Linked DNA regions of Homo sapiens: region 2 is linked to region 1. Evidence: fine-mapped expression QTL. A gene starts in region 1. The other region holds a variant in brackets. All regions are shown on one strand. Distances are from middle to middle.

Region 1 (2,812 bases):
CCAGACTTCCTCGGATACATGAAGAACAGATTAGAGCCAAAGGCCCGTGACACGGTAGCCTAGGTCCCTCTCATCCTTGCAGCCTGCTGACAGTTGGGAGTCTGGGGCATGTCACAGCCTGCCGCATGTCACAGCTTGCCGAACAGTGGCCACTGAAGCACACCCATCTCATCCATCACTCACTGCCAGGGAGTGTTCCACTTAGAGAGCACGGGTGCTGAGCTTCCCAGCCCTTTCTGATGCTGGAGCCTGCTAGACCAGGGGTCCCCAATCCCAAGCCTGGTCCGAGACCTGTTAGGAACAGGGCATCGCAGCAGGAGGTGAGTGGAGGGGGAAGGAGCATTACCGCCTGAGCTCCGCCTCCTTCAGATCAGCCTCGGCATTAGAGTCTCAAAGGAGTGCGAACCCTTTTGTGAAATGCGCATGCCAGGGATCTAGGTTGCGGGCTCCTTATGAGAGCATCTTAACTCATGCCTGATGATCTGAGGTGGAACAGTTTCATCCCCAACCCCCCCACCCCCACCCCCCTCCGTGGAAAAATTGTCTTCCAGGAAACCAGTCCCTGGTGCCAATAAGTTTGGGAACCCGTTGTGCTGAACATTTCAGGTGGTCTCTCTGACTGGCCTCGTTCTGTGAAAGGAACTCAATGCGATTGAGGGGACTGGCCACCCTGGATGGTTACCAAATAAGCGCTGACAGCCTTAGCTCCCCCACGAAACCCATCACGGCAAGCTCCCCACCTCACCCCCTTTTCCCCCCTCTACCGCCAGCCCAGAGACTGAGCTGTCGGGTTTTGCTCCTCCACCCTGCCCGCCCCCTCCCAGCTGTCCTGGCGTCCGCAGACTGACAGATCTGAGGGTCCTTTGGAGGGAGCCGGGCACATCTCCTCCCGGCCGCCGCCCACCCGCCACAGAGTCTAGAGGCCGAGTGCCGGGCCCGCAGAGGGCAGAGCGCAGCCAGCGCAGCAGGTGGCGGCGTCTACCCGCGCCTAGCTAGCCCCGGACGGCGCGAGGAAAGCGCCCTGCCCAACCCGAGACTGGCGGCCTCCCGGGGCTGGGCTCTGGAGAGAGCGCAGTGGCAGGAGTGGCCGCTGCCGAAGTCCCCCGGGCAGGGGGCAGGGCCAAAGGAGCGCGCGCTCTGGGCGCCGGGACGACACTCCAGCCCCGGGGGACCCGCCGCCCAGCTCCCGAGGGTGCGGCAGCCTCTGGCCACTCAGCCGGGGCCGAGAGGGAGCTGCCGGGCGGGCAGGCGCCGCAGGCACCCGGCGGGCAGGGCGGGGCAGGGCAAGACGGCCGCCTCCGCAAGTGCCACCCGGCCCACCCGGTTCTCTCCCTTCTGCCTGGGACGTCAGCGGACGGGGCGCTCGCGGGCCGGGGCTGTATGGGGCTCCCGCGCGGGTCGTTCTTCTGGCTGCTGCTCCTGCTCACGGCTGCCTGCTCGGGGCTCCTCTTTGCCCTGTACTTCTCGGCGGTGCAGCGGTACCCGGGGCCAGCGGCCGGAGCCAGGTAGGGGCTGCCGAGCGCAGAGCGGGAGGGCGCAGGGGCGACCAGGGCGCGGGGAGGGTCCCCAGCCCAGGGCTCCCCGGCGGCCCGCAGCCCTCAGCCCAACCTCCGCGTGGACCCCTCTGGGGCAGCTCTCAGCGAGGACTCGGCCGCGGCCCTTTGTCGCCAGAACCCTCTCCCAGCCTTGACCTCGCGCTGCCCGGACCCCGCGGCCTTTGCCTGGGTCCAAGGAAGACCTCGCCCCTGTGCACTGGCGACCCGCCCCGGTGCCCCTTGTTGGTGAAGTCCTCCCCGGCCTGATAAGTACACTTTCTATTGTCGAAATCTGGCTGGGTCCCCGAAGCAGATAAAAACTTCCTTTTTTGTCGGGAACTCTCCCTCGGTAACGTCAGATTCTGCTTTTTGGGCAGGGGCCCAAGTCTCCGGTTTCCAACTTCGCGGGGACCCTCCGTCGGGCCGCGGCCAGTCGCCTTTCCCGCCCGCTGCGGTCTCTGTCCGCCCCGCGCCCGCTCCCTTCTCCCCGGCTTCCGCTCGCCGTGTCTGGATAAGCCCAGTGCGGGCGCGATCCGCGAAGAGGCGGGCGCCCGAGGGAAAGAGGGGTGACTCCTGGCTCCATCCGCGTTCTCCTCCCCGCGCCGCGTCCTGCGCTCCACTCCCTCCTCCTCCCTAGGCACTTTCCTGGGTGTCCCACGAGGAGAACCTGGGAGCCGGCCTCTAGCAGGTGGTGGTTCCGGTGACTGAAGAAGCCGCAAAACGATTTCGCTTAGCTTAAGAAAGGCGGACCAAGCCGTGCGAAGTCTGGGTTTGGGAGGAGGGAAGGGCCCGGCAGCCTCAGGGAGAGGCCTCCAGCCCCAGCCTTTCCCTTCCTGGAGCTTTTCCATCTGCGCACCCCCTACCAACCTTGCTGGGGGGCTAACGGGATGAAAACAAAATAAGTATCTGGTCTCCACAGATGCTGTCAAAGGATACACCAAAAGTTGCAGAACAATGTGAAACAGCTTGCCAGTGATCAGGAGTCCAGCACTCTTAGAACAAAGGGTGCTTGCCCCGCCACGGTGACTTAACGCCTGTAGTCCCAGCACTCTGGGAGGCGGAGGTGGGAGGATAGCTTGAGGCCAGGAATTCGAGGCTGTGAGCTGTGATTGCACTACTGCATTCCAGCCTGGTTGACAGAGAGAGACCCTGTCTCAAAAGAAAAGGAATCCTTGTCACTTTTATGTAAAGATGTTTAAAACACAAAGTATCTCAATGCAAAGAAATAATACATGTTTGATATAAGCCTGGGCAACATGGCGAAACCTCGTCTCTAC
Region 2 (2,695 bases), 24 kb after region 1:
ACCATTTTGGTGCAGGCTGGTGGAGATCCAGGATGACTCATTTTAAGGAGACAGTATCTCTGAGGGAGCAGTTTCTGGTAAGAGGCCAGTAAACAACTATCAGAAAGCACTCCCTCTGGATAGAAACATTTCAAGTCAAATCTTATGGTTTACTTGAGTTCTGTAGTCAAGTCCACTCAGCAGACAATAACCACTTGATAAGCTACCCTTTTCACTGTTTTACTTGCAGGCTGTAAACTACTGGGGCCAGTTTTTAGGCTCATTAAATCTCACCCAGAATACAGCTTCTTTGGTGTCCAGCAAAAACACAACCTTAAATACAAAGAGTTTGCACACACCTCCCCTTTCTTTTTTTTTTTTTTTTTTTTGAGACGGAGTCTCGCTCTGTCACCCAGGCAGGACTGCGGACTGCAGTGGCGCAATCTCGGCTCACTGCAAGCTCCGCTTCCCGGGTTCACGCCATTCTCCTGCCTCAGCCTCCCGAGTAGCTGGGACTACAGGCGCCCGCCACCGCGCCCGGCTAATTTTTTTGTATTTTTAGTAGAGACGGGGTTTCACCTTGTTAGCCAGGATGGTCTCGATCTCCTGACCTCATGATCCACCCGCCTCGGCCTCCCAAAGTGCTGGGATTACAGGCGTGAGCCACCGCGCCCGGCCCACACCTCCCCTTTCAACAGAAAAGAAAGGCAATCTGTGTGCACTTCAAGCCTGGCATTCCAGTGGGAACAAAGCTGGGCACCCCACTCTCCAGCACCACTTGGTTTCTTTCTTGCTCACATGCCAGTCGTGACATTCAGACAGGATCTAAGCTACAAACTTAGGAGACCTCCCTGGCGTCCTTAACAAAGCACATAGAAACCAAACAGCCGTGGTTTCCCCTAAATGTCAGGACCCTGGAGCAGAGGCAAGGTCAGAGTCATTAAGCATTCTCATTGCCACAAGCTGGCATACATCCTACATTCCAATCTGTTTCTAAGAGCGCATTCATTTTCTTGAAATATGTAACAAGCACTTTCATTCCACAATAAGGGCATAAATCAAATCCTGGGTACTTGTGCATTCCTGCCACCTCATACAGCCTGTATCCTCAGAGCCATAATCAAAGGACTAGAGAAAGCAGGACAATCACTCATTTGCTTTTCACGTTTTAGAGGAATGATGCTCTAGACTGGGCTCTCAGCAGGATATGCTGAGGGAAAAAAAAAGGGGAAAAAAAACAAAAACAAAAAAAAAACCATGGAGCCAAACCCTTAAGCCTCAGAATAGATTATTTCCCTCAGTCCAGATTTTCAGACAGGGATAACTAACCATCATAGGCTTGTGGGACTTCTTACGGATACGAAAGATGTAAACAAATCTTACAAACAGGAAAGCAATCATTTCACTTGTTTCCGGCAAAGCAGTTCAGTTTCGTCTCTTATTGCAGACACCTAGCAACAAAATGCTACTAAAG[T/C]CTCCCTGCCCCCATTGCTTTAAGTCCAGAGCAGGGGAAGCAAAAAAGATTACCACTCCCCCAAACCAAACCAAGCCTGTTTACCAGTTCGTCTACTTACTCACATTAAAGACATGGCACTTTGGGTCCGGGTCCAGGTCCTGGTTCAGAGCAGCTGCCACACCGTGGCTACTAGAGGATCCTTTTCCGGCTTTGGAAACTGAGGCTGACTGCACCTGGGAAGAGAAATTAAGAAAAAAAACTACTTAAGAAGATACACACAGAGTAACTCTCAAGTAACTTAAAATTTCTGTAAGGCAAACTTGGGAAACTGAGTTTCAGATATTCAAATTCCACACAGAAAGGCCTTTCTTTGCCTTCAGACAGGGATAACTTGAAATCATCATGGACTCAGCTCCCACCAACCTGCTGGACCATAGCACTAACAGCCACAGCACACGCAAACTATTTTTTTCTCATCAAATTGTTCACTTCCCTCACGCAAATTCTTTGTGGAGCAAGCATGTGACTTTCTTTTTTTGAAAAGTAGTTTCACTCTTGTTGCCCAGGCTGGAGTGCAATGACGCGATCTCGGCTCACTGCAACCTCCACCTCCCGGGTTCAAGTGATTCTCCTGCCTCAGACTCCCAAGTAAGTTGGGATTACAAGCATGCGCCACCACGCCAGGCTAATTTTGTATTTTTAGTAGAGACGGAGTTTCTCCATGTTGGTCAGGCTGGTCTCGAACTCCCGACCTCAGATGATCCACCTGCCTCGGCCTCCCCAAGTGCTGGGATTACAGGTGTCAGCCACCGTGCCCTCCAGGCTTTCAGTTTTTTAAGACAGAGGATTAGAGATTTGCCCAAGAGCTACTTAAAAATAGCCAGCACTATAATCTCACTATAATAAAATCCTTGCACTAAAAACAGATCAGATCATCTACTTCAAGCTTGTCTAACCCACAGCCTGCATGTGGCTCAGGACGGCTTTGAATGCAGCCCAACACAAATTTGTAAACTTTAGGACGGCTTTGAATGCAGCCCAACAAATTTGTAAACTTTCTCAAAATATTATGAGATTTTTTTTTTTTAGCTCATCAGCTATCATTAGTGTTAGTTTATTTTATGTGTGACCCAAGACAATTCTTCCAATGTGGCACAGGGAAGCCAAAAGATTGACACCCCTGATCTAGTTACTACCCACTTGCTCTTGGACTGGCCACATGATTCCTGGACTCCACTCCAGAGCCATTCTCACCCATGC

What was found.
Region 2: its variant is fine-mapped to the expression of ST6GALNAC2 in whole blood (TOPMed, PIP above 0.99).

Annotation. Positions count from the first base shown.
Region 1 is chr17:76,584,377-76,587,188 of GRCh38, reverse strand. ST6GALNAC2 (ST6 N-acetylgalactosaminide alpha-2,6-sialyltransferase 2) reads left to right here and starts at 1,329. Exons shown (of 9, transcript NM_006456.3): 1 at 1,329-1,505. The coding sequence starts at 1,381. RefSeq lists enhancers at 1-342, 343-1,024 and silencers at 893-1,182, 1,233-1,572.
Region 2 is chr17:76,560,261-76,562,955 of GRCh38, reverse strand. It overlaps SNHG16 (small nucleolar RNA host gene 16), which reads right to left. Exons shown (of 3, transcript NR_038111.1): 2 at 1,558-1,668. It overlaps SNORD1B (small nucleolar RNA, C/D box 1B), which reads right to left and starts at 1,848; the gene lies at 1,763-1,848. SNORD1A (small nucleolar RNA, C/D box 1A) reads right to left here and starts at 1,323; the gene lies at 1,250-1,323. The variant T/C (reference allele first, on the strand shown) is at 1,454.